Homo sapiens: one gene and its partners. The protein of the gene in region 1 interacts with the protein of each later gene in a biochemical or structural test. Each region holds a gene or a part of one and is shown on either strand. Other genes may lie near its edges.

The links.
Region 2: the proteins of FBXL17 (region 1) and KBTBD8 form a complex in vitro, tested with the Homo sapiens proteins (one study listed by BioGRID).
Region 3: the proteins of FBXL17 (region 1) and KLHL12 form a complex in vitro, tested with the Homo sapiens proteins (3 studies listed by BioGRID, with this or other methods).
Region 4: the proteins of FBXL17 (region 1) and PRMT1 form a complex in vitro, tested with the Homo sapiens proteins (one study listed by BioGRID).

What each region holds. Positions count from the first base shown.
Region 1 is NC_000005.10:108,372,072-108,379,098, reverse strand, and holds part of FBXL17 (F-box/LRR-repeat protein 17), read left to right. Parts: intron 1-7,027. UniProt on the Homo sapiens protein: Substrate-recognition component of the SCF(FBXL17) E3 ubiquitin ligase complex, a key component of a quality control pathway required to ensure functional dimerization of BTB domain-containing proteins (dimerization quality control, DQC).
Region 2 is NC_000003.12:67,001,297-67,008,323, forward strand, and holds part of KBTBD8 (kelch repeat and BTB domain-containing protein 8), read left to right. Parts: intron 1-1,898; coding exon 1,899-3,013; intron 3,014-6,625; coding exon 6,626-7,027. UniProt on the Homo sapiens protein: Substrate-specific adapter of a BCR (BTB-CUL3-RBX1) E3 ubiquitin ligase complex that acts as a regulator of neural crest specification.
Region 3 is NC_000001.11:202,903,213-202,910,239, reverse strand, and holds part of KLHL12 (kelch-like protein 12), read left to right. Parts: intron 1-1,115; coding exon 1,116-1,230; intron 1,231-7,027. UniProt on the Homo sapiens protein: Substrate-specific adapter of a BCR (BTB-CUL3-RBX1) E3 ubiquitin ligase complex that acts as a negative regulator of Wnt signaling pathway and ER-Golgi transport.
Region 4 is NC_000019.10:49,680,259-49,687,285, forward strand, and holds part of PRMT1 (protein arginine N-methyltransferase 1), read left to right. Parts: intron 1-228; coding exon 229-330; intron 331-1,651; coding exon 1,652-1,807; intron 1,808-1,858; exon of another isoform or gene 1,859-1,937; coding exon 1,938-2,001; intron 2,002-3,668; coding exon 3,669-3,811; intron 3,812-4,495; coding exon 4,496-4,583; intron 4,584-4,663; coding exon 4,664-4,779; intron 4,780-5,834; coding exon 5,835-5,985; intron 5,986-6,346; coding exon 6,347-6,468; intron 6,469-7,027. UniProt on the Homo sapiens protein: Arginine methyltransferase that methylates (mono and asymmetric dimethylation) the guanidino nitrogens of arginyl residues present in proteins such as ESR1, histone H2, H3 and H4, FMR1, ILF3, HNRNPA1, HNRNPD, NFATC2IP, SUPT5H, TAF15, EWS, HABP4, SERBP1, RBM15, FOXO1, CHTOP, MAP3K5/ASK1, MICU1 and NPRL2.

The DNA of each region.
Region 1 (7,027 bases):
CCGCGTTGTTCTCTTTCATATTTTTTCCTGAGGATTGTTGAAAACTTTGTCTAAAGGACATATGGGAATTACCATGGGCTTGCCCTATTGTGTGTATTTGGACATGTTATGTAGATTTCCATTCCTTGTATTAGAAAATTCTAATAAAGATTCTCTGTCTGAGTCTGATGGTCCTAGTGGTATTCAGCACGAAGTGAGCTGTACTGTCTGGGATGAATTGAATTAGCGATTGTTCAGTGTCTGCCAACCCCAGTTTTTGGGTGCAGCGACTCTGGATTCGTAATCTTGTTCATTGCTCTGTCTCCTCCTTTAAGTGCAGTGTCTGGCATATAGTAGCGCTCAGTAAATACTTACGAACGAATGTATCATCAGGTGTTTAGAGTCTGTGCTGAGACTCAGGGTGAATACGCCACACCACGAAGAGATATTTCTAAGGAATGTCCATATTCTGACTGGAGTTGCTGTTGGAGCCACGGTAGAGCCATGTGGTGGTGAAAGGATTCTGGCTCTGCTGGTAAGGACTGGAGTTGTTTGACTTGGAGAAGGGAAGACTTATGGAGCTATGACAATTTTTCTTTTCTAATATTAGAAGGGTTGCGTAGAGAGGCACAAGTCTATCATCACTATTGGAAAACATTCTTAGAAATTATGCCCTGTTCTCCTGGTAGGGAGTCAATAGCTATTATAATTGTATTGCTTTTGCTTCATCTTTTATGCTAGGAAGTTACTATAGCTGTAAAAACAAAACAAAACAAAACAAAAAAACAAAAAACAAAAACGAGGCAGGTAGAATTTGGGAGAGAAATGTGAGGATGTTTAAGAATTTAAAGGATGTTTTTTGGGAAAGCTACCATACTTGCCCATTTTTTTTTTTTTATGGCAGAGGAGAGAAACTAAACTATATGTTGCATCATAGGCTAATTTTTGGCTCAATATCAACAAGGATGTTTCTCTTTTATATAGGTTAATATTACCTGCTTTAAAGCAGTCAAAAATGCATTTTAATATAATAGTTTCTTTAACAAGTTGTTTGCCTTTGGCAAAATATCCTATTTTATGCTTATTACCCACATCTTAAATTTCTTCACTTGGATAAACAAATCTGGATTTAGTCAATGACTTGTGGTTTATAACAGCCATATCACTTTTATATAAAAGATAATAGCTAAAGTCAGGCAGGTTTCAAACAAGATGCTACTTGGTTGCAGTGACCATGCCCTACATGTTGATTGTTAACTGACAAATTAGCCCTTTAAGACCACATAGTCCTTTAACCTTAAAAAATGATCTAGGCCATCTAAGTTTTTATTTTCTCATTTATAAAATGAGGAGGACAAGCATAAAAATATCCGCAAGAAATGTACTTTCACCTGTGGCTGCATGAAGAGTTTGGTGAATCCTTTCCACACACAAGTATAAAAATGGCAGAATTGCCCAAAACTATTTGAACTCTGGAAATCAACCAAAAGCAAAGAAAATCATTGAGAAACATTTATTCTTAGGAAAACTGTTAGATCTTCAGGTAAGAATAGTGCAAGTCTACAGCATTCTCGCGTGGGCTTCTACTGTGACCTCCTGTCCCAGCACTTTTGGCAAGAATTGTAGTTTGGAAAACCAGCAGCTTCGCTGTCAGACAGCTGATTCAATTTGGGGCAATGAGTAAAAACCTTTGTCGATAAAATGTACTGAACTTGGTAGGGGAAAACAAGGAAAAACCATGTATTTGCTAGTTTAAGGTTGTAGTGCCAGTTGGGGTGAGTGGAAGAGTAGCTATAAATTAAAAGGCAGACCCTGGAAATGAGAGAACCATAAAGGGATAACCTCTTCACATATCCTGGCATAACGTGAAACTATGCACATGTGTAGGGGAGACCTGAGGTTGTCTAACTGAGAGCAAGGGCCAAGGCAGATGAGAATTCTTTAAGCTTTGAATGTGCCCTTCTTAACCCAGATACAGATTAAAGAGCAGGCTCAAGCTGTTTGAGCATATCTTTGGCATGTACATAGCTGAAAACTAAGATATTCAGACACAGAATGACTTCTCTAGAAAGCCAGGCTAAAACATATATATGTGAATTAAAATCTGAACAGATGTAGTCACACTGCCCAGGACACAGATTCCACAGTTTAGGGCCAGACATGTTAAAAGGCTCAGAAATATAAAATTCTACACTGGTGGCCAGGTGCGGTGGCTCACGCCTGTAATCCCAGCTTGAACCCGTGGGTGGAGGTTGCAGTGAGCCGAGATCACACCGCTGCACTCCAGCCTGGCAACAGAGTGAGACTCTGTCTCAAAAAAAAAAAAAAAAAAAGAATATACACTGGCTATGTTATCCAAAATGTCCAGTTTTTAACAACAAATTTTAAGACACGTAAAGAGACAGAAAAATGTGACCCATGCTGAGGGAAAAAGAAAGCAGTTAATAGAAACTGACTGTGAGTGAGCCTAGATATTAGACTTAGCAAAGACTTCAAACTGCTATTATAAACATGGTAAAAGAAAGGAAACATTATTTAAATAATTACAGGAGAATATGATGACATTGACCCAACAAATTGGAAATCTCAATAAAGAAATGAGAGCTGTAAAAAAAGTTTTATTCTTTTTGATGCTATTATAAATGGAAGTGCTTTCTTAATTTCATCTTCAGATGATTCATTGCTAGTATATAAAAATATTTGCTTATTAGCTCTAAAATTAATTTTTGTGTTTATTCTCTGGGATTTTCTCTATATAAGACCATGACATCTGTGAATAGAGGATGTTTTAATTCCAGCTCCCCAATCTGGATGCCTTTTGTTTATATTCCATGTCTAATTGCCCTAGCCAGAATCTCCAGTACAATGTTGCATAGAAGTCATGATGCAGAAATCCTTGTTTTGTTTCTGATTTTGGGGAAAAACTTTTAGACTTTTACCATTAAGTATAATGATAACTAGGGGTTATTGGTAGATGCTCTTTCTCAGGTTGAGGAAGTGTTCTTTTATTCCTATATTTCTGAATGTTTTAATCAAGAAAGGGTATTAGATTTTGTCCAGTGCTTTTTCCTGAATCAGTTGAGATGATCATGTGTTTTGTTTTTGCTTTTTACCTTTATTCTATTAATATGGTGTGTTACATGGGTTTTTTTCATATGTTGAACCATCCTTGCATTCCTGGGATAAATCCTACTTGGTCATGGTGTATAACCCTTCTACTATACTGTGGATTTAGTTTCCTTATATTTTATTGAAGATTTTCACATCGGTATTCATAAGGGACATTGGTCTGTAGTTTTTTGAGATTTCTTTGCCTGGCTTTGGTATCAGGATATGCTGGCCTTATAGCATGAGTTGGGAAGTAGTATCCCATCCTCTCATTTTTGGAAGAATTTAAGATAGATTGGTGTTCATTCTTATTGAAGCATATTACTGGTGAGGCCATCTGGTCCTTGTCTTTTCTTTGTTGTAAGTTTTTTGTTTTTTATTACATATTCCATCTTTTTACGTGCTGTACATCTACTCAGATTTTCTATTTCCTTTGAGTCAGTTTTTATAGTTTATATTCTAGGAATTTGTCATCTATTTCATCAATTTGGTAGCATACAATTATAGTATTCTCTTATAATTGTGTACTTTTTGTAAGGTTGATATTAATGTTCCCATTTTTATACATGATTTTAAAATTTGAGTCTTCTCTCTTTATTCTTAGTCTAGCCAATTTTGTGTGTGTGTGTGTGTGTGTGTGTGTGCAGGGTCTCTGTCACCCAGGCTTGAGTGCAGTGGTGTGATCATAGCTTATAGCTATGTAAATGGAAGTGCAGCCTTAAACTCCTGGGCTCAAGTGACTTTCCCTCTTGTCAGCCTCCTGAGTAGCTGGGTGCACAGGCATGCTGGCGCATGCCTGGTTAATTTCTTAAATAATTTTTGTAGAGACAGGGTCTTGCTATGTTTTCCAGGCTGGTCTCAAACTCCTGGCTTCAAGCAGTCCTCCCACTTTGGCTTCCCAAAGTGCTGGGATTATAGGTGTCAACCATTGTGCTCGGCCTCATCATTTTAAAGAATAAACTTTTGGTTTTGTTGATCATCTATTATTTTTCTAGTCTATATTTCATTTGTATTAGCTGTATTTTTTCCCCCTTGTTTCTGCTTAGTTTGTATTGAGTTTTCTTTTTATAGTTTCTTGAGGTAGAAGTTTAGGTTGCCAATTCAAGATCTTTCTTCTTTTTAAATGTAGTTACTTGTTTCTGTATCCCATAGATTTTGCTATATGTGTTTGTTTTCATTAATTTCAAATTATTTTCTAGTTTTCTTTATGAGTTCTTCTTACTTGTTGATTGTTAAATTTTCATGTATTTGTGAAATTTCCAGATTTCCTCCTGTTAGTGATTTCCCCTCCTCTTTCCTCACCTCCCTTCTCCTCTTCTCTTTTCTTTCATTTTTTGAAACAGAGTCTCACTGTATCACCCAGGCTGGAGTGCAGTGGTGTGATCATGGCTCACTGCAACTTCTGCCTTCTGGGCTCAAGCAATCCTCCCACCTCAGCCTCTCTAGTACCTTGGATTAAAGGTGCACATGCCACCACGCCCGGCTAATTTTTGTATTTTTTGGTAGAGATGGGAGTTTTGCCATGTTGCCCAGGCTGGTCTTAAACCCCTGGGCTCAAGTGATCTGCCTCCCTCGGCCTCCCAAAATGCTGGAATTATAGGCCTGAGCTGCTGTTCCTGGCCTCTGTTACTGATGTCTAATTTCCTTTCATTGTCATTGGAAAAGATACTTTGTATGAGCTTAATATTTTCAAATTTGTTGAGACTTGACTTGTAGTGTAGTATTTTAGACTTTGGTCTTTGAGAATGTTTTTATGCACTTCAGAAGAATGTGTATTCTATTTTGTGTAGTGTTCTAGAGATATCTGATAGGCCATGTTTAAGTCTTGTTCAAGTGTTCAGTTTACTTGTTCATCTCTTGTCTGGTTGTTCTATCCATTATTGAAAGTTGTACGTTGTAGTCTCCAAGCATTAATGCGGAACTCTTTTTGGTTTTTTTCCTTTCAATTCTGTCAGTTTTTGCTATATGTATTGTTCCATGCTTTTACTCTCAATCTGTGTATATTTTTGGATCTAAATTGAGTCTCTTGTAAACAGTATATAATTGGATTGTGTTTTTACATTTTATCCTGTTATTCATTGTGTCTTTCTTTTTGAGACAGGGTCTCAGTCTGTTGTCCAGGCTGGAATGCAGTGGCACGATCACAACTCACTGCAGCCTCGACCTCCTGGGCTCAAGCTATTCTCCAACCTCAGCCTCCCATGTAGCTGAGACCATAGGTGCATACCACTATGGCTGGCTAATTTTGTCATTTTTTTTGTGGAGACAGGGTCTTGCCATGTTGCCCAGGCTGGTCTTGAACTCCTGGGCTCAAGTGATCCACTCAACACAGCCTCCCAAAAGTGCTGGGATTGCAGGTGTGAACCACTGTGCCTGGCCCTGGCCTTATGTGTCTTAACTGGAAAGTTTAGCCCATTTACATTTAGTGTAATTAGTGATAAGGAAATACATTTACTATTTTATTATTTGTTTTCTCTATGTCTTATATATTTTTTGTTTGTCAATTCCTCTGATGCTGTTCTTTGTGTCAGATATTTTCTAGTGTACCATTTTGATCCCCTTCTCATATATACATATAATTCTCACATTATATAAATAAATATAACATATCTAAATATATTAATATATTTAGATATATATTTATATTAATATATATTTAGATATATTATATTTAGATATATATTAATAAAAATTTAATATATTTAGATATATATTATATTTATATTAATATATTTAGATATATATTATATTTATATTAATATATTTAGATATATATTATATTTATATTAATATAATATATTTAGATATGTTATATTTATGTAATGTGAGAATATGTATATATGAGAATTATATATATAAATAAAATATAGTAAATAATTATGTGTGTATTTCTTAGTATTTACCCTGGGGGTTATAATTAACACTATATATTATAACAATTTAGTTTGAATTAATACCAGTTTAGTTTCAGTGGTATATAAAAACTTTGCTCCTGTATTTGTTGTTATTGTCACAAGTTACAGCTTTATGAATTTTGTGCCAATCAATATAGATTCATAATTACTGTTTTATGTAGTCTTTTAAATCATATAGCAAAGAGGAGGCATTGCAAACCAAAGACACAGTAATATGCACTTTTATATTTACCTATGTAAATACCAACAATTACTGGTATCCTTTAGTTCATATGTGATTTTAAGCCACTGTCTGATCCCCTTACATTTCAGCCTGATGGACTCTTTATAGTATTTCTTTTAGGGGAAGTTTACCAGTGACAAACTTCCTCAGTTTTTGTTTATCTGGAAATATCTTAATTTTGCCTTTATTTTTAAAGGGTTGTTTTACCAGATAGAGGATTCTTGGTTGACAGTTTCCTTTCAGCATTTTGAATATGTTATCCCACTGCCTTCTGGTCTCCATGGTTTCCAGTGAAAAATCAGTTGTTGATTGTATTGAGTGTCCTTTTCACGAGTTGCATTTTTCTTGCTGCTTTCAGGGTTCTCTCGGTTTTTGTCTTTCAACAATTTGATTATGATGCATCTTGATATGAATCCTTTTGCATTTATCCTGCTTGGAATTCATTGAGTTTATGAGCTAGATTCATGCCTTTCATCAGATTTGGAAAGTTTTAGCCATTATTTCTTCAAATATTTAGGCCTCTTTCACTCTCTTTTCCTTCTGTGCCTCCAATTATATGTATATTAGTATGTTTGGTGGGGTTCCACATGTATGTTCATTTTCCTTCAGTCCACAGACTCAGTAATTTTAATTTACCTATCTTTAGGTTTGCTGATTCTTTCTTCTTGTAGAGGTTCAAGGGATTTTGATGTTTCTCAAGAAAGAGATATGATTATAAGAAGTGGTAACACACAACAAGCTTCATTTGGTGGCACTTGGACAGGATTATATGAGAGGAAACTTCTTTTACAGCATGAAGCTG
Region 2 (7,027 bases), on another chromosome or scaffold:
AGTGGAAGAATTAGAACGGCTGGAAATCTGGAATGGCTGTTTCATGATACCAGTAACTCATCAGAATTGAAATTTGTATGATTATTAGAAATTTTTTGCTGCTCTGGATTTTGTGTGAGGAAGTGCCCTGGCTTCATTTATGTTGAGTTTACATGAAGAACTTACTAGAACAGAGGAAAACTCATGAAGTGTGAGACCACTCCTGTGTGTAAGATGAGCCTATTCAAGTCAGCAGTAGTTCCCATGATAAAGGGATATGTGGTAATGTCTTCCTTTGGGAGTTAATGTCTCCCTAATGCAGGGCTTTATTTTTCTTTTTAATTGGTAGCTGTATCGGTGAGTCTTTCAGCACCTGAATTGAAAACCAGCACATACGTAGGAACATCTAGTTTTTAGTCATCAAAAAAGCCAGTGTGATACTAAATTAAAATGTACATTGTAGAAGTAAAAACAGGACTCGAAGATGATTAACCTGGGCAGCAAGTTGAGTCCTTGTACCTCCAGTGTTTCTCATACTGCATTTTAAAATTAATTCCATGAATTTGAGAGATATTTTTTAAGTGACTGGAAATCTTTGCAATTCATTTTTCATAAGATCACAAAAATTAAATAGGATGAGTCTGGATCATCTAGAATGAAACTTTAAAGGAGCGAAAAGAAAGGCAAATGATGTTTGCAAGTGACTAATACTTAAAGAGCCAGGCTGCTTAATGTTTCGGTCAAGAAAATCCCATAAATGCAACAATATTTTAATAATAGAAAAAACCAACTTGGTCTCGAAGGTAAAAGTTTGGGGTTTTAAAAACCATTATCTTCAAAGAATCAGTTAACTATTAAACTCTGTTTAAAACAGGCATTATGTATTGACTCTACCATAATCTTTATTTATGTCTAGATTTAGGTAGGTAAAATATGGTATCTTTGAGAAAATGAAGTATTTCCTTTTAAGCAAATGTTCTCAAAATTTCCAAGGGTAAGTGAAGTGATTATTATATTACTTATAATGGTTAAGGCAGCATTCAAAAGATGACAGTTTTAAAAAGGAGTAGGTGGAGAATATGTACTTTTAAAGAACTTCTTGCTTTTCTAAGATGAACATTTTAAAGATATATTTTGGATACAAGTTGCCTTGTAATTTTCACCAGGACATGAAAAGTTTTTATTAGGTTGTTTCTTTGTATGCTAATGTATCATGTTGATACCTTTATAGGTATTCTTTTTTTTTTTTTTTTTTTTTTGAGATGGAGTCTCACTCTGTCTTCCAGGCTGGCACTCAGCTCACTGCAACCTCCGCCTTCCGGGTTCAAGCGATTCTCCTGCCTCAGCCTCCTGAGTAGCTGGGATTACAGGGATGTGCCACCACGCCCAGCTAATTTTTTATTTTAGTAGAGATGGGGTTTCACCGTCTTGGCCAGGCAGATTTTGAACTCCTGACCTTATGTGATCCACCCACTTTGGCCTCCTAAAGTGCTGGAATTACAGGCATGAGCCACCACACCGGGCCAGTATTCTTAAGCTTTCTGACTGGCATGGCCCAATTTAAGATCTGATGTCCCTAAGGCAACTTGACCAGAACTCTGGATAGGGGCTTCTAGGAAAATAAAGTGACCTGGAATATGTGTGTCACCTTTTGATTTGCATTTACTTAGGTGTACTCTCCTTTTTTCATAGTTGGCACACAGCGAGCTAGCCCTGAGAATATGGGTTTTGAGGTTAGCCAGACTAAATCCTTCTGATACATTATCAATTTTTACTCCTATTCAGAATATCAGGGACTATTTTAGGAAATATTCTGTTTCAAAAGGTTATCTTTGTGGTAACTTTGTACTTTTAAAATCTTGCCACAATAATTTTGATTTATAGCACACGTGTAATATTAACCACTCTTTCCTTCTTAGATCCATGTTCACTAGCGGCCTTACAGAAAGTACTCAAAAAGAAGTTCGAATAGTTGGTGTTGAAGCTGAATCGATGGATTTAGTGTTGAACTATGCCTACACTTCCAGAGTTATTCTTACAGAGGCCAATGTTCAAGCCTTGTTCACTGCAGCTAGCATCTTCCAGATTCCTTCCATCCAAGACCAATGTGCTAAGTATATGATCAGTCATTTGGACCCACAGAATTCTATTGGGGTCTTTATCTTTGCTGATCATTATGGTCATCAGGAACTCGGAGATCGATCAAAAGAATACATTCGTAAAAAGTTTCTGTGTGTCACCAAAGAACAAGAGTTTCTCCAGTTGACAAAAGACCAACTGATAAGTATACTAGACAGTGACGATTTAAATGTAGACCGAGAAGAGCATGTTTATGAAAGCATTATAAGGTGGTTTGAGCATGAACAGAATGAAAGAGAAGTGCACCTTCCAGAAATTTTTGCTAAATGCATACGTTTTCCTCTGATGGAAGATACCTTTATAGAGAAAATTCCACCTCAGTTTGCACAGGCTATAGCCAAAAGCTGTGTAGAAAAGGGACCATCCAACACCAATGGCTGTACACAGAGGCTTGGAATGACTGCTTCTGAAATGATCATATGTTTTGATGCTGCCCACAAACACTCAGGAAAGAAGCAAACAGTGCCTTGTCTAGATATAGTCACAGGAAGGGTGTTTAAACTATGCAAACCACCAAATGACCTGAGAGAAGTTGGGATTCTTGTATCACCAGATAATGACATTTACATTGCAGGAGGGTACAGGCCAAGCAGCAGTGAGGTCTCCATCGACCATAAGGCAGAAAATGATTTCTGGATGTATGATCATTCCACCAATAGATGGCTATCCAAACCATCCTTGCTTCGAGCCAGAATAGGCTGCAAACTTGTCTATTGCTGTGGTAAAATGTATGCAATCGGAGGTCGTGTTTATGAAGGTGATGGGAGAAACTCACTAAAATCTGTTGAGTGCTACGACAGTAGAGAGAATTGTTGGACGACTGTTTGCGCGATGCCAGTTGCAATGGAATTTCATAATGCTGTGGAGTACAAAGAGAAGATCTATGTTTTACAGGGTAGGTGCCTAAGTGATTTAGTTTTTCATGGAAGGGTAACACATCAAGTGGTGGTTTACTTAATTATACTGAAACAGTTGTGTTCCCGTTAATTGAGGAATACCTCCAGCTTCCTTATCAAACTATTGGAACAGTCTGTTCTGTAAAGAGCTATAAAGAAAATAAACTCTTGAATTAAAAAAAGGCAGGTATTGTTAAATTACTAAAATAATCCTATAATTTTTAATGATTTTGTGTCTTGATATCATGTAGAATAACTATTTTTGAAAACATTCTTTAATAAATAATAGTTCGGCATTTTGGGATAACTATTTCAGAGTAGTTTGTAGGACTTGAAATAAATAGCAAGGTTGTTACATGGCTGTTTTTGCTCTTGAGTAAAATTGAGATGTTGTAGCAACTGGTATTCTGTGGAATTTACTGGATTAGTTTAAAAGAGAAAAGAACAAAGCATTAATTAAGTTATACTATTTAGTTACCAAAGAGTTTTATATAAGCCTTATTATTGCAAAAATTATGAAATTTAATTACAAAGAGTTTGGAAGTATGGTCTTCAAGTTTCACCTTCACTGCTGTTTATGTTGCCTTTCATAATACATTTTCAATTTTTTTCACCGGAAAACTTTGAGATGTCCCTTTTTTTTGGTTTGCCATTTTAAGTGGGACTATCTGATATATGTAGTGTTTGTTTTGTTTTGTTTTCTGTTTGTTTTTTTAACTGTTAAGGACTACTACTTTGGCAAAAATACAGTAGAGGTAGAGTGACTGAGTCAGAGTAAATAAGACATTTGATTCAAGGCTCTGATTTGTGATAACTATTTTCCTTTTATTTGGTTTCTTACACATTTTAGTTGCTTGAATGTTTAATGCAGTGTAGATAATAGCAACATCCTTATTCCTCGTATGTGTCTCTTAATTGATGTTTTTCTCACACTACTACTTAAGGAAAAGGAGCAGCTTCTATGAAGATATACAGTCATGTGCCATGTAATGTTTTGGTCAATGATGGATCACATACACAATGGTGGTCCTATAAGATTATGATAGCATATTTTTACTGTACTTGTTCCATGTTTAGATATGTTTAGATACAAAAATGCTTCCCATTGTGTTACAGTTGCCTAGAGTACTCAGTACAGTCACATGCTGTACAGTTTTGTAGCCTAGGTGTGTAGTAAGCTCCCATCTAGGTTTGTGTAAGTATGCTCTATGATGTTCTTCCCACAAGGACAACTATCACTTAATGATGCATTTCTCAGAATATGTCCCTGTCATTAATTGATGCATGACTGCCCTTATCCCATTGTTTTCTTTCTTTCTTCTTTCCCCTCCCCCTTCCCCTTCCCTTCTTTTCTTTCATTTCTTTCTTTCTCTTTTTTTTTTTGAGGCAGGGTCTCACTCTGTCACCCAGGCTGGAGTGCAGTGGCATGATCTTGGCTGACTTCAACCTCCGCCTCCTGGGTTCACATGATTCTTCCACCTCAGTCTCAGGCATCTGCCACCATGCCTGGCTAATTTTTTTATTTTTGGTAGAGTCGGCGTTTCACTATGTTGACCAGGCTGGTCTTGAACTCCTGACCTGCAGTGATCCACCCACCTTGGCCTCCCACCATTGTTTTCTTTTAAAAATTGTGTTCCTTGCTCTAATCCTTTATTTAACTAAAAATTTCCTAGTAATATCTGAGCTCATTTGTTTAAGTTCAGTGTCAAGTTAATTCCTCAGAAGGAGTTGTACTCTCTGGTTCCTTATTTTAGTTAAATAGAAGCACAGGCCATGATTTGGGTTTGCTGTCTTGTGGAAAAATGGAATATAAGAATGGATGTATGATCCGTCCAGTATACTTGGATAGGTTATGTCATCCAGTATGATGAAGCTGTCTGTGTATGTGTGTATTTTGGTCTTACTGCCTAACTGTTAGTTGGTAGAGGTAGAATTAGATTCCTATTTGGAATGTGAAGTTTGTATATTAATGCAAATACTAAAGCAAACTAGCAATGAATTAATAGAATTTCAGGGCTGGAATTATTAACATCATTTAATTTGAGGTTATATTTTATATAAGAGGACTCTGAAGCCCTAAGGGTTTCTTAATTGCATATTATTAGCTTTAACTTTTATTAAAGAGTACTTTAGATTTTAACATTCAACTTCTTTGGTGTGTCGTCTTTACTTTCTTATCTATAAGAAATTTATAGAGAAGTAGCACACATTACAAAGTTTAAATTTCCTACCTTATTTATCGAGAATCCTGTTACAAGTTAGGCAATAAGGGCAGATGATGTGCGAGCAAATCTGGGAGCTTTACAAGCTATTTTAAGTTAGTTGAAGGCAAAGCATCACTGTTACGAAGTACGTAGTTGAATTTGTAGATAAGAGTAACCCTAGTTCAAAACAGTTTTCAAGGGGAAGCTCAATTTAGAATCTGGTATTTCTAATCTAAACAAAGCCTCTTTACATAAATAAACCTGACATGCATAGTCAGAAGCTTATGTTGTACTATCTGTGGCTATTGAAGTATCATTTAATCTGTTCATAAAGTGTTCAGATTTTTATTACAAAGATTTTAAACAAATGCTATAATTAGCAAAACTATTGTAAATCTTCACTACTTTAATTCTTTCAGACATTTTCATATTGGCAGTCTGACTCAGCATACCTTTTTATTATCAAATCAAAATAGAAACTGACTCAAAGTCAACATCACAAACCATGTATGTGTTTTCTATCTTATTAAAGTCATGTTTTCTCCTGCTGAATATTTCTCTTTGCATTATAGCAACATTCAGGTAAGCACATCAGTGACCCATAAGCATAAATCTGCACAATTCCATCTGCTGTCTTCTAATTAAATAGCATACACATTTATCATGGCATATTTATGATGATGTTACATGTATGCATTTTGGTCTTACTGGCTGAACGTTACTAATAATGCTTTTTTAGAGCTAGAGTAAAATGAATTTTCTATAAACACACAAATTGGATAGAGCAAATAGAATCAAGTTTGTGTTTTTTTTTTTTTTTTTGAGATGGAGTCTCACATTGTTACCCAGGCTGGAGTGCAGTGGCGTGATCTTGGCTCACTGCATCCTTCACCTCCTGGGTTCAAGTGATTCTCCTGCCTTAGCCTCCTGAGTAGCTGGAATTACAGGTGCCTGCCACCACACCTGGCTAATTTTTGTATTTTTAATGGAGATGGGGTTTCACCATGTTGGCCAGGCTGGTCTCAAACTCCTGACCTCAAGTAATCCACCCGTCTCAGCCTCCCAAAGTGCTGGGATTACAGGCGTGAGCCACTGTGCCTGGCCAGAATCAAGCTCTTAACAATTCTGCCATCAAGCCCAAGTAACTCCTTGTACCTTCCCAATACAAACCTCCCAATTCAGGTTGATTATAATATTATCTGTTATATTGTGTCATGGAATGACAAAGTTTTAAGGTATTTTGTAACCCATATGAATGTATCTCTGGAGATTATAAAAGAAATGTTTTAGAAAGTGAAATATATAGCAAATTATGCCCTTTAATCTTTAGAGGTTGTAGTTACAACATATAACCAAAAACCAAACATAAAAATTTACATATTCTTGTTTTCTTTTTTTTTTTTTTAGGAGAATTTTTTCTCTTCTATGAGCCTCAAAAAGACTACTGGGGTTTCTTAACCCCCATGACTGTGCCTAGAATCCAGGGCTTAGCAGCTGTATACAAGGACTCTATCTACTACATAGCTGGAACCTGTGGAAATCATCAACGTATGTTTACTGTAGAAGCCTATGATATTGAGCTAAATAAATGGACTCGTAAGAAAGACTTTCCATGTGATCAGTCCATAAATCCATACCTTAAACTGGTACTTTTCCAGAACAAACTCCATTTATTTGTTCGAGCTACTCAAGTGACTGTTGAAGAACACGTCTTCAGAACCAGCAGAAAAAATTCCCTTTACCAATATGATGACATTGCTGACCAGTGGATGAAAGTGTATGAGACCCCAGATCGGCTCTGGGACCTTG
Region 3 (7,027 bases), on another chromosome or scaffold:
TGTGAACTTAATATGTCTTAATATATTTGTGCCTTAGCTTTCTTATGTGTAAAACAGGGATGATAATAGTACGTTCCTCATAGGTTCTTGTTAGCATTGAGTAAGTTACTATGTGAAAACTTTTAAAACCAAGTCTTTGTACATAAGTGTTTACTACTATTTATTGTTTGTTTTCCTTTCCAGTTCGACTAAGAACTTCTTGGGTCAGGTTAATAGAGGTGCCATTTAATTAGAGCTGTGTCCTTTAGGGTCCCAACAGGAAACAGATGCTATACTCAAAACAGGACAATTTTAGAAGAGTTTTTTTTAATAAAGAAGCTGTTTACAAAGGCGCAAGTTCAGAGAAACAACAAAAGACAGTGAAATAACCTGGATCTAGGACATAAGCTATTAACAACCCCTAAGCCTGAAGGGACAAGGTTGAGGAGTGGTTACTAGAACCTTAAAGGAAAGAGAATCGTGTAGAGTCACTGCCTTGAGAGAAACCTTGACCTTTGGTTGGGCTGATCCCAACCAGAAGCTAGAAGGCATAGGAAGCCCTATTGACACAGTTCATATAGGCCAGTCTTCTGAGCCAGAGAGCAGAGTGGAAAAAGGTACAGAGTGAGTTGGGAGGCAAATGAAAGATGTCCAGTACAGAGCTGTCAGAAATAGACAATGGTAATTACAACAGGACTGTGAACCTTGGGGGAGATATTTCAGACAAAATATGATTCTTCCTGTCACCCAGAAAATAACAGAATCTTTTTGGTTTTCCCCTTAAAATTCTTATTAGTTATTATGTACTTGTGTTTGCATAATCCCTGGAAGGGCATCCAAACTATGTAAAAATAGTTAAATGTAAGCGCTGCGATAGATGGGAAATACTGCTCAACATATCTGTTTATATCATTTGATTTTTGATCCATCTAGTATGTTATCTATTTTTCAAGTAAATTTTAAAAATCATTTCTGGAAACCGAGAGCATGGTTACTACCAGCAATACTCCTGGAATCACAGGGCTTTGCAAACTGGTTTTCTGTAGTCAGAAGTTAATTATTTGCATGTGCTCTTTGTACTCTTATAGTATTACAGGTATCCCCAGTGCCTAACTCTGCTGTCTGCTATATTTCAGCCTTTCATCCGCTGTAGTTTACAATGCAGGGATCTGGTTGATGAAGCAAAGAAGTTTCATCTGAGGCCTGAACTTCGGAGTCAGATGCAGGGACCCAGGACAAGGGCTCGCCTAGGTAAGCTGGTATCTCGGCAGAATGAGGGGATGCTTTTCAACTACTTCTTGCAGGTGACAACATAGTTGAAAATAATACTCTATAAGAAGTACAGACACCTCGTTTCAGACCTTTTCTTCTATCATCTCAGACAAGTCACTTTACCACTCTAAGCTTTCTTTCCTATAAATCAAGGATGTCTTCTCTATCTACTTCACATAATTATTTGGAAATTAAATGAGATAAAATATAAAAGCACTTTATACATTGTCAGGCATTACATAATATGTTACAATTTTTTGTCAATATTATTTAGATTCTGTGAATTAGAGATAATTTTAGTGCCACATAATGGCAGGTAAGTAGTATATGCTTCCACCCACCTCTTCACTTCCCCTTATGTGGTTTTTCCATTCCGGAATGAAGAGAGGAAGAAAAGGAGCCCAGTGTGGTAGAAAGTACATGGGTTTTGGCAGTTACTGTTGGTGCAGGTACCAGTTTACCTCGTACTAGATTTATTAACTTGGGCAGGAACCTTAACCTCTGTGTGCTTCAGTTGCCTCATCTGTAAATGGAATCATCGTAGCACCTGCCTGTAACATTGTTATGAAGAGTAAATAAAGTTATTTATGTAAAGCCTTAAAACACTTCTTGGCACATAATAACTATGTGTATTAGCTATTATCTTAGCAAATAGACCTAGGTTCAAATCCAAGCCCCAGCAATGACTGGTTGGGCAAGGTATCAATTTATCTGAGCCTGTATGTCTACCACTAAGATGAGAGTTAGTGTCTTATCTCAGTGTTGGGAGGATTGAATGAGATAATGTATATAAGATACCTAACACTATAGCTGGCACACACTAAATACTCAGATATCACCATACTTTCCACTTCCTATTCTCTTTGCTTCACTGTCCAAAAGCCTAGGTGTATAGTGTATAAAAACATTTTATAAGTTATGAATTACTCTATATGTATGGGGTGGTATTTTGTTTTATTGTTTCCTTTTATCTGACTGAGGACTCATGATGCGTGCTAAGGTGTTAGTTGATAATTAAGCTGCTCACTGATGGGTTTAGGTAGAATGGTGATTTATCCGCTATATTTTATTTTTTTTAATAGAAATGAGGTCTCACTATGTTGCCCAGGGTGGAGTGCAGTGGCGTGATCTCGGTTCACTGCAGCCTTAGCCTCCTGGACTCAAGCAGTCTTCCCACCTCAGCCTCCCAAGTAGCTGGGACCGCAGGCACGTGCCACCATGCCTGGCTAATTTTTATATTTTTTTGTAGAGACAGAGCCTTCCTTTGTTGCCCAGGCTGGGTCTTGAACTCCTGGACTCAAGCAGTTCACCTGCCTTGGCCTCCCAAAGTGCTGGGATTACAGGCCTCCCATATATATATATATAATTTTTTTCCTTTTTTTTTTTTTTTTAAGACAGAGTCTTGCTCTGTCACCCAGACTGGAGTGCAGTGGTGCAATCTTGGCTCACTACAACCTCTCCCAGGTTCAAGCAATTCTTGTGCCTCAGACTCCCGAGTAGCTGGGACAACAGGCGACTGCCACCATCCCTGGCTAATTTTTGTATTTTTGGTAGAGACAGGGTTTCTCCATGTTGACCAGGCTGGTCTCTAACTCCTGGCTGCAATTGATCCACCCACCTTGGCCTCCCAAAGTGCTGGGATTACAGGCATGAGCCACCATGCCTGGCTCCCTCTCCTATATTTTTTAATGGCATAAGTACTGCATGTTCAATGTAGAACTTGTAGAAATACAGAGAAGCAAAAAATAAATAAAAATCATCCATAATCTTACCACTCAAAGATACTGCATTTTTTTAAAAAGAGAACTTTTAGATAGGGCATTGTAGATGGTATTTTCTACTACTGCAAGATGACAAAATGTGATCTGTGTTTCATATGCTTTATACACAGATACATATCAACACAAGATAGATTGAAGGACTGAATGGTGAAAAACTATGAGAATATTAGAAGAAATTATAGGAAAATATTTGTATACCTTCTGGATGGAAGTCTTTTTTTTCTTTTTTGTAAAATATATGTAACAGGCCGGGCACGGTGTCTCACACCTGTAATCCCAGCACTTTGGGAGGCCAAGGTGGGCAGATCACTTGAGGTCAGTAGTTCGAGACCAGCCTGGCCAACATGGTGAAACCCCATGTCTACTAAAAATACAAAAATTAGCTGAGTGTGGTGGTGCACACCTGTAATCCCAGCTACTCTGGAGGCTGAGGCAGGAGAATCGCTTGAACCCGGGAGGCGGAGGTTGCAGTGAGCCAAGATTGCACCATTGTACTCCAGCCTGGGCGACAGAGTGAGACTCCATCTCAAAAATAAATAAATTAATTAAATAAAATATATTTAGCATAAAATTTACCATCTTAACCATTTTTACATGTACAGTTGACTCATGTTAAATACATTGTTATACAATCAATCTCTGTAACTCTTTTTGTCTTAACAAGACTGAAACTCTGTACCCATTAAACAATAAACTCCCAATTTTGCCTTTCCTCCCAGGGTAGGAACTTTTTTTTTTTTTTTTTTTTTTTTGAGACGAAGCGTTGCTCTTGTTGCCCAGGCTGGAGTGCAGTGGCATAATCTTTGCTCACTGCAACCTCTGTCTCCTGGGTTCAAGCGATTCTCCTGCCTCAGCCTCCCAAGTAGCTGGGATTACAGGTGTGTGCCACCACGCCTGGCTAATTTTTTGTATTTTTTAGTAGAGACGGGGTTTCACCACGTTGGCCAGGCTGGTCTCGGACTCCTGACGTCAGGTGATCCGCCCACCTCAGCCTCCTAAAGTGCTGGGATTACGGGCATGAGCCACCGCGCCTGGCCATTACTTTTGTTTTTTAAAAAATAATTATTATTTTTAAAAATTGGGTTGGGTGGCCGGGCGCGGTGGCTCATGCCCGTAATCCCAGCACTTTGGGAGGCCGAGGCGGGTGGATCACGAGGTCAGGAGATCGAGACCATCCAGGCTAACACGGTGAAACCCCGTATCTACTAAAAATACAAAAAAAAAAAAAAAAAAAAAAAAGCCAGGTGTGGTGGCGGGCACCTGTAGTTCAAGCTACTCAGGAGGCTGAGGCAGGAGAATGGCGTGAACCCAGGAGATGGAGCCTGCAGTAAGCTGAGATCACGCCACTGCACTCCAGCCTGGGCGACAGAGTGAGACTCTGTCTAAAAAAAAATCGGGTTGGGTATCCCTAATCTGAAAATCTTGAAATTCAAAATGCTCCAAGATCTAAAACTTTGAGTGCCAACATAATGCTCAAAGGAAATGCTCATTGAAGCATTTTGGATTTGGGGTTTCTGAATTAGGGATGCGCAAATAGTTGTGCAAAGAAATAATGCAGATATTACAAAAATCCAAAAGTGTCTGAAATCTGTAGCGCTTCTTGTCGTAAGCATTTCAGATAAGGGTTACTCAACCTATACCATGAAAGCCAGTGATGTAGTGGAAAGAACCTGGCACTAGGAGATAAGACATTTTGCTTACTTTGATTTTTACTCCAATTTCCGACACTCACTCTAGTAACTTGCTGTTTGGACAAGTCCTTTAACTTCTCTGGGTTACCAGTTCTTTATATCAACAGAGTTAATGTTCAGTCACTAAGGTACTTTCCAACACAGAAAAATGTTTCCTTTTTGCATGATAGCACTCATTATTTGCTTATTAAATTGAACTAAAAGCTAATGAAAATTTTTGTGAATCAGTAAACCCAGAAGATTCTTTGGAGGTACATTTCTTGCATATCTCTGAACAGGCAGCAGAAGGGGCTCCTGCTTGGTTAGAGAACTTGCTTATTGCCCTGACCTTAAGGGATTAAACTATAAATCTATATATCTTCATAGTCTTGAGGTTATTTTTCAGAAGTTCTAGAAGGGAAATGCTGAAGCAGTTTCCAATTAGATTCTTAGTATCGCTTTGTCAGTGCCTTAGCAGGTAGATTGTTCTTACCATCATGTCCTCTACCCATCTCTATGCATATTGGCTGCTAAACCAGCTACCAGGATAATGACTCTTCTGCATACAGCAGAAGGAAATTAAATTGACAGCCAAGTTAAAATAGCCTGCCAAATAAGGGATTTTTAGTTATTAACCTTACCCATTACTGTCTCAAAGAAGATATAATGGAAATTACTTTTCTAATTTGTGGCTGTCTCCTTTTTTGAACTAAAGATCAGTGCAAATGGAAATGTGAGTCTCTGAACCCTGTTATTTTAGCAGTCCTGCATCTGCCTTATTTCTCTAACAACGTGTCACAGCACACACACACTCCCCTTCCCCTCTTTCTAAAAATAATGACCATGCCACTGCCAGGTTCTTCAGTTTTAGAAATGTGCTTTTTCACACTGTTCTTGTAAGATGTCCTAGACAAGCTTTTCTCATTAAAAAGATAAAAATCTCACTTAACAAGTACTCCATCATTGGCAGAGAACAAACAGGCTTCTTTCAGGTTGACTCTTTCACTAGCTTTTTTTTACACGAGTCAGATTGTTTGAGTATTGGTCTCCAACTTAGGGTTAAAACATTAAAACCTTAGGAGTTCTTCTGGGGAAGAAGGACTTTCTAGGCACAAAATAGTGGAAGAAATGACAAAGAATAAAAACATATTTGAATAAATAAAAAAATCATATACAAAATTATGATAAATTAGGAACATAGGTTTGGAACAACCCTTTAAAGGGTTAAAGGGTTGGCCTGGCAGGGTGCCTTACGCCTGTAATCCCAGCGCTTTGGGAGGCTGAGGCAGGTGGATCACCTGAGATCGGGAGTTTGAGACCAGCCTGACCAACATGGAGAAATCCTGTCTCTACTAAAAATACAAAATTAGCCGGGCTTGGTGGCACATGCCTGTAATCCCAGCTACTCGGGAAATTGCTTGAACCTGGGAGGTGGAGATTGTGGTGAACCAAGATCGTGCCATTGCACTCCAGCCTGGGCAACAAGAGCAAAACTCCATCTCATAGATAGATAGATAGATAAATAGATAGATAGATAGATAGATACATAGATAGATAGATAAAGGGTTAAAGGGTTAAAACCATTTGTGTGTAAAGAGCTCATAAGAATGCATGAGACAGGGCCAAGAGCAGTGGCTCACACCTGTAATCCCAGCACTTTGAGAGGCTGAGGCAGGCGATGGAGCCCAGGAATTCGAGACCAGCCTGGCCAACAGGATGAAACCCTGTCTCTACTAAAAGTATAAAAATTAGCCAGGCATGGTGACGCATGCCTGTAATCCCAGCTATTGGGGAGGTTGAGGCAGGAGAATCATTTTAGCCCAGGAGGCAGAGGTTGCAGTGAGCCAAGATCACACCACTGCACTCCAGCCTGGGCCACAGAGCAAGACGCCGTTTCAAAAAAAAAAAGAAAAGAAAAAAATTAGTGGTCCCAGCTACTAGGGAAGCTGAAGTGGGAGGCTAGGAGGATGCTTGAGCCCAGGAGGTCGAGGCTGAGGCTGCAGTGAACCATAATTGCACCAGTGCACTCTAGCCTGGGCAGCAGAGCAAGACCTTGTCTCAAAAAAGAAAAAAAAAACAAGAATGCATGAGAGAAACAATAAAGATTTGAGTGTACAGTTCGCAGAAGGGCAAGTAAAGCTGGCTACTAGATACAAGGGAGGGAGTTCAACCTAATTAATAATAGGGTCTTATTAGTTATAAAGAATTAAACATAATTTTTTGCCTACCAGAGTGTCAGAGATTTAAAAACTATCCAGTGCCTCAGAAAGTAGAATGAGTTGGCACCTTTATAGTGTTGGTGGGAGTGTAATTGGTAACAGCTTC
Region 4 (7,027 bases), on another chromosome or scaffold:
GGGGTGCTCCCCTGGATGGTGCTCTGGGGGGGTCCTGGAAGTGGAAAATGGGGTTGTTAGGTTTTGGGGTTCCTGGGGGGGCAAGATGGCAGGCGGGGGCTGTAGGGTTGTCATGGTATGATTTTGGGGGTTCTATACTACTCTTCAGGGAAAAGTAGGGCGCTGGAGGTTTAAGAGGCTGTGGGGAGCCCCCAGATCTGACCCATGATCCCATCGGCCCCCTCCCAGGTGTCCTGTGGCCAGGCGGAAAGCAGTGAGAAGCCCAACGCTGAGGACATGACATCCAAAGATTACTACTTTGACTCCTACGCACACTTTGGCATCCACGAGGTCAGTGGGGACAGTCCCCAAGGCCCCAATCTTAGGGGGGCTTAAATGTTGGGGAAGGGGTGGAACCTGTTTTCCCACGCATGCGCACTGCTTCCCCTGGCCGCAGGCCGCCCCCCTGCCCCTCTGCTGCGCACTTCCTAGGGTCGCCTCGCCAAGCCGTTGCCTTGGAGACCGAGGTTAGCCTGAATCTCTGCAGGGGCCTCGCGCCGAAGGCTGGGGTGGGAGAGCGCATGCGTGCCTGGGGCCTTAGCCAGAGGTCGGGCAGGGCCCACTGGTCTCTGCCGCCCTCTAGTGACCGGCGGTGGGACTGCGCCCCGGCTGCTCCCGCCCTAACAGCTTCTGCACACTTCAGATCTGACTGAAGACACTGAAATCCCAGAACGAAGCTGGGGTGGCATTCTAAGGAATTTTCTTTTCCCCCTGAGGCCTTTTTCATAAAATTGTGGCAAAATATGCATAAAATTGCCATTTTTTATTTTTAGAGACGGTCTCGCTCTGTCGCCCAGGCTAGAGTGCATTGGTGCAATCATGGCTCACTGCAGCCTCGACCTCCCCGGCTCAGGTGATCCCCCCACTTCCACTTTCGGAGTAGCTGGGACCACAGGCGCGCGCCACCACGCCCAGCTGATGTTCTTATTTTTCTGTAGAGATAATCTTGCCTTGTTGCCCAGGCTGGTCTCAAACTCTTGGGATCAAGTGATCCTCCGGCTTTGGCCTCCTGAGGTGCTGGGATTACAGGCGTGAGCCACCGCTCCCAGCCTGAGGACTTTTAAAAGCCAGGGTTCACTGGTTCTTAGGTAGCAGTGGTGAAGTCCGGCCAAGATTGGAGTTTAGACCATCTAATCTGATTTTTTAAAAAGGGAAACTGGCTGGGCGCAGTGGTTCACGCCTGTAATCCCAGCACTTTAGGGGGCTGAGGTGGGTGGATCACCTGAGGTCAGGAGTTGAAGACCAACCTGGGCAATATGGTGAAACCCCATCTGTATGAAAAATACAAAAATTAGCCGGGCATGGTGGTGTGCACCTATAATCTCAGCTACTTGGGAGGCTGAGGCAGGAGAATCACTTGAACCCAGGAGGCGGAGGTTGCAGTGAGCTGAGATTGCACCATTGCACTCCAGCCTGGGCAACAGAGTGAGATTCCATCTCAAAAAATAAAATAAAATAAAAATAAATAAATGAATAAATATAAAAGGGAAACTGAGGTGCATGGAAGAAAGCGAGAGGGCCGAGCTCTGGCCCTCCGAGCTCTCAGGACACGCTGTTCTCCAGCTGGGGATATGGGGCCCCTCACGGCGTCTCTGTGCCATTCTTGCCCTAGGAGATGCTGAAGGACGAGGTGCGCACCCTCACTTACCGCAACTCCATGTTTCATAACCGGCACCTCTTCAAGGACAAGGTGGTGCTGGACGTCGGCTCGGGCACCGGCATCCTCTGCATGTTTGCTGCCAAGGCCGGGGCCCGCAAGGTCATCGGGGTGAGTCTCCAGGGTGGCCAGGCGGGGCCGGGCCTGAGGGATGGAGGGGAGCCCATCAGGGCTCAGGGATTGGATGGAGGTGATGGGGGCAGGGGATGGGTCTCACCCTCCCTTCTTCCTGGGCCCTCAGATCGAGTGTTCCAGTATCTCTGATTATGCGGTGAAGATCGTCAAAGCCAACAAGTTAGACCACGGTGAGCCCAGAAAGAGGATGGGTTTGTGGGAGTGGAGGGGGTGATGCCCTGCTTCCCCAGGGCCCTCTGAAGAGCAGTGGGGTCTACAGATGACCACAGATTCAGCAGCTCCCAACCCATGGTCTTTTGGGCTGCCGGCCGCCTGAGAATCTGAGTGTCAAAATCACAGGCTTAGCACCGCAGTCTTAAAATTAGGGCAAGAAGCACTCTCTAGTTTCTTGAATGAGTAATAGAGTCACGTGGTTGGCCACGGAAGGCCCACAGTGAGAAGCCTTCCCTGTTTCCCAGCTGCCCTCCTCTGAGTTTAACCAACACTAACTTCCAGAGAAGTCTGGACCTACAAACACATACATACGTAAATGCATTTACATTCTCGTGCATAATTTTCACGCCAGTAGCATTTCATACCAGCCTCTTGCCCTTGGCTTCTTACACCTGCTTGTCATGTCGTTTAACACTTTCCAGGATGTTGCGGCATCCGCTCTTTTGCATGACCACCATCATAGGTACATCCCCAGCATTTTTTTTTTTTTTTTTTTTTTTTTGAGATGGAGTCTCACTCTTTTGCCAGGCTGGAGGGCAGTGGCACGATCTCAGCTCACTGCAAGCTCCGCCTCCTGGGTTCAAGTGATTCTCCTGCCTCAGCCTCCCAATTAGCTGGGATTACAGGCGCCAGCCACCACGCCCGGCTAATTTTTTTGTTTTTTTAGTAGAGACGGGGTTTCACCGTGTTAGCCAGGATGGTCTCGATCTCCTGACCTCGTGATCTGCCTGCTTGCCTTGGCCTCCCAAAGTGCTGGGATTACAGGTGTGAACTTTTTTTTTTTTTGTATTTTTTTAGTTGAGACATGGTTTCACCATGTTGGCCAGGCTGGTCTTGAACTCCTGACCTCAGGTGATCCATCCACTTTGGCCTCCCAAAGTGCTGAGATTACAGGCGTGAGCCACCGTGCCATCCTGAAGTGATTTTTAAAAAGAGATTATTATAATGAACGCACGAGTCCATTTGAAGCAAATTCCCACTGTGATGTAATTTTCCCGGTAAATGCGTCTGCTTGTGTCTTATCTAATAGATAAAGGCTGTTTTGAGAATGTGATCATGCTGTTACTTATTATATCAAAACCACCCAGTTAAAAACAAAATCGCGGCCGGGCACAGTGGCTCACGCCTGTAATCCCAACATTTTGGGAGGCCGAGGCGGGCGGATCGTGAGGTCAGGAGATCAAGACCATCCTGGCCAACACGGTGACACCCTGTCTCTACTAAAAATACAAAAAATTAGCCGGACTTGGTGGCTGGCACCTGTAGTCCCAGCTACTCGGGAGGCTGAAGCAGGAGAATGGCGTGAACCCGGGAGGCGGAGGTTGCAGTGAGCTGAGATCACGCCACTGCACTCCAGCCTGGGTGACAGAGCAAGACTCCGTCTCAAAAAAAAAAAAAAAAAAAAAGTAACATCACCTGATACCCAGTCCACATAAAATTTCTGCTCCTGCCTCAAAAATGTCCAGAACGATGTATGAATTTTAAAACTGTTAGAAGGGTTCATGGCTTCTGCTCACGCAGTTCTCTGAACTGAAGTGGGGTCCCCAGGCTCTAGCCCCCGGGGGAGGTGAGGTGAGGGGCAGGCCTCCCGGGGGCTGACGTGGCCACCCTTGTCCGCCCGCAGTGGTGACCATCATCAAGGGGAAGGTGGAGGAGGTGGAGCTCCCAGTGGAGAAGGTGGACATCATCATCAGCGAGTGGATGGGCTACTGCCTCTTCTACGAGTCCATGCTCAACACCGTGCTCTATGCCCGGGACAAGTGGCTGGTGAGGCCCCAGCGGGACGGGTGCAGCTCGCGTGGGCTGGGGTCCAGGTAGAAGACGAAAACCACGCTCAATTTTTCCCACAGACGGGACTTACTGTGGGGGCTTAGCTGCAAGGTGTTAGAAAGCCACAGCCCAAGCCAGGTGTGACAGACCCTGGAGGGAGATGGTGCGATGTGGGGGAGGTCGTAGGAACAGGAAATCCGTAGCGGCGCAATAGCCCAGGTCCTTAGGCCCCAGCAGGCCTCCCCGGGAGAGGTGAGGTGACGGAGAGGTGGATGAAGCATACGGAGGGGCAGCCAGGGCAGGTGTGCCCTTGCTGCGTGTGGAACAGCAGGGAGGCCCGTGTGGAAGGAGGGTCTAGAACGGCAGCAGGAGGAGGAGTGGAGGTGAGGGGTGACAGGGCGTGTGCAGATTTTGTGGAGGCTTATGGGACCCCGTGCTTTTCCTCTCAGAGCAGCTAGGGAGGGTCTGAGGATCCCCAGAACCTCCAAGGGCCGGGAGCTGACTGGGGTGCCCCTGGGTGCCCTCTGGCGGCCGTGTGGGAAATAGACCAGGGGGCGAGGGGTGAGTGCCGCTGCGACATGAGGGTGGCCCAGACCAGGGCAGGAGGCCACATCTTGGAGGCAAGACTCAGGGTAGTGTTGCCAGGCCCCACCCTTCATGCCTCGCCCTGCCCCTCTGTAGGCGCCCGATGGCCTCATCTTCCCAGACCGGGCCACGCTGTATGTGACGGCCATCGAGGACCGGCAGTACAAAGACTACAAGATCCACTGTGAGCGCGGCCCGGGAGCTGGCGGGCGGGGCCTCGGGTGGGCTGCTGCGGGCTCACCCCCTCCCTGCCTGCCTCCCCAGGGTGGGAGAACGTGTATGGCTTCGACATGTCTTGCATCAAAGATGTGGCCATTAAGGAGCCCCTAGTGGATGTCGTGGACCCCAAACAGCTGGTCACCAACGCCTGCCTCATAAAGGTGAGGGGGTGGGCATGGCCAGGTGCCCCCTGGGTTGAAACCAAAGAGAGGCCATCACCTGGCCCTGGCATGGGACTTTGGGGCCCAGAATGTTGGCCTGAGGTCTCAGAGCCTGATCTGCCAGCCAGAGGTGGTGCTAGAGGCCCAGGAAAGACACTTCGTCCTTTAAATATCTTTGTGAGCGCTGCTGTGTGAGAACCATGCTTGGCACTTGGCTTCTGGCGGAGGAAACACCCAAAGCTGGCAGCTAAAGCCCACAGCCCATGCACGGAAAGGCAGGACCCCAGGGCGATGAGCGGATGCACATGCACGCGGGCCACTGCAGAAGAGCACGGGGCCAGGCTGGGCTCCGAGATGTGCCTGAGGTCCCAGCTACTCGGGAGGATCACTTGGGCCTGGGAGTTCAAGGCTGCAGTGAGCTGTGATCACATCACTGCACTCCAGCTTTGGTGACAATGTTTTGTTTTGTTTTTTCCTTTTGTTTTTTTTTACTTCTGAGACCCTGTTTAAAAAAAAAAAATACGGCGATGAGTATTTGTTGAGCTGGGATGTGTGAGCCGGGTGAAGCTGGGTGGCTGACCGGGGGATCCTGTCGGGGAGGAGTAAGTTGTTGAGTGGGGGAGGAGAGGAGACTACAGGGGCAGGGACCCCACTCGGGCCACCCTCCTGAGAGCCAGGGGAACTGGCGCAGGGTTTAGGTTGGCATTTGTGTTGCCGTTTGAAGCCATCATGTTGTTGGACTTGTCAAGGGGTTGGGGAGACAGTGGAGTGGGGCGCCTGCATTCTAGGAGGTCTGGACAGAGTTAGGGTGGCACTGCCAGGTTTGGGTGTTGGAGAGGAGGGAGCAAGGAATCTGGGCTCGAACCCACATGGTTTATTGGGAGCCGGATAGGCAGGATGCAGAGTGAAGGAGGAGCCGAGGCTGGGTGCCAGTGAGGGAGGGCTAGCAGGAAGGGGACAGCGAGGTCACAGGCCCTCTGGGAGCTTAAGGGAGGGAGGAGGGGATGAAGCGAGGTGGGGACGCATCCCGGAGCTCGCCCTCTCATGTCCTGCAGGAGGTGGACATCTATACCGTCAAGGTGGAAGACCTGACCTTCACCTCCCCGTTCTGCCTGCAAGTGAAGCGGAATGACTACGTGCACGCCCTGGTGGCCTACTTCAACATCGAGTTCACACGCTGCCACAAGAGGACCGGCTTCTCCACCAGTGAGGCGGGGCCCACAGGGCTGGGGGCCGTTCCCGAGCCAGGGCGGAGGCGCACCCACGTAGTGGAGGGGGTGACAGAAACGGGCAGAAGGAACCATGGGGACACGCGTGTTCCAGTGTGAGCTCTGCCATGTAGCAGTCACGTGGCCTTGGGCAAGTGACCTGAGTGTGCAGTGCCTCAGTTTCCTCATCCACAAAAGGCTGACACGGTCCCTGTCTCCAAAGCTCAATGACAGGGAGGTGACTCGCGGATAGCAGTCCCATCAGCTGTCATGGGGGTGGGCATTCCGACAGAGGGAACGCAAGGGTGGGGTTGGGGGGGGCAGCAGGCCGAGGCCGGCTGACCCGCCCGCGCCCCCAGGCCCCGAGTCCCCGTACACGCACTGGAAGCAGACGGTGTTCTACATGGAGGACTACCTGACCGTGAAGACGGGCGAGGAGATCTTCGGCACCATCGGCATGCGGCCCAACGCCAAGAACAACGTGAGGCTCCGGGCAGCTGGGTGGGAGGGTGGCAGCTAGGGCGGGGAGTGTAGATTGGGGGGGGAGTGGTGGGGGAGGAATGGTGGCAGCGGGGGTAGGGGATGGGGGCAGCCGGGGTGGGGGATGGGGGCAGCTGGCGGGGGCGAGCACCTCTGCCTATTCCCGGGTCCCCAAGCCCCTCAGCCCCATGCCTGTCTACACAGCAGGATTGCTTGAGCATTCACCGGAAGTTATGGGCCTGGGGACCCAGGCTGAAACCCTGCCCTCCTGGTGCTTCCACTCTAGACAAGGGGGTCAGTGACATGGTGATGCCAGTTGGAGGTGACCTCTGTCAGGCTGGGAGCAGGGCAGACAGGTGTTGGTGTAGGTGGGCTCCAGGGCAAGAGGCAGCCCCCAGTAGAGTGCACGGGGTTTTCTAGCCCAGCTGGGAGGCATGAGAGGAGAAAGGCAGCTTTTTGTTTTCTGCTCCCCTTTCTTTTTCCTCCTGAGCACTTGGCAGGAGCTGCCATCACCTGAGATCAGGGGGCTTCCGGGGGAGCTGGGGGGGCTTCTCGGAGAC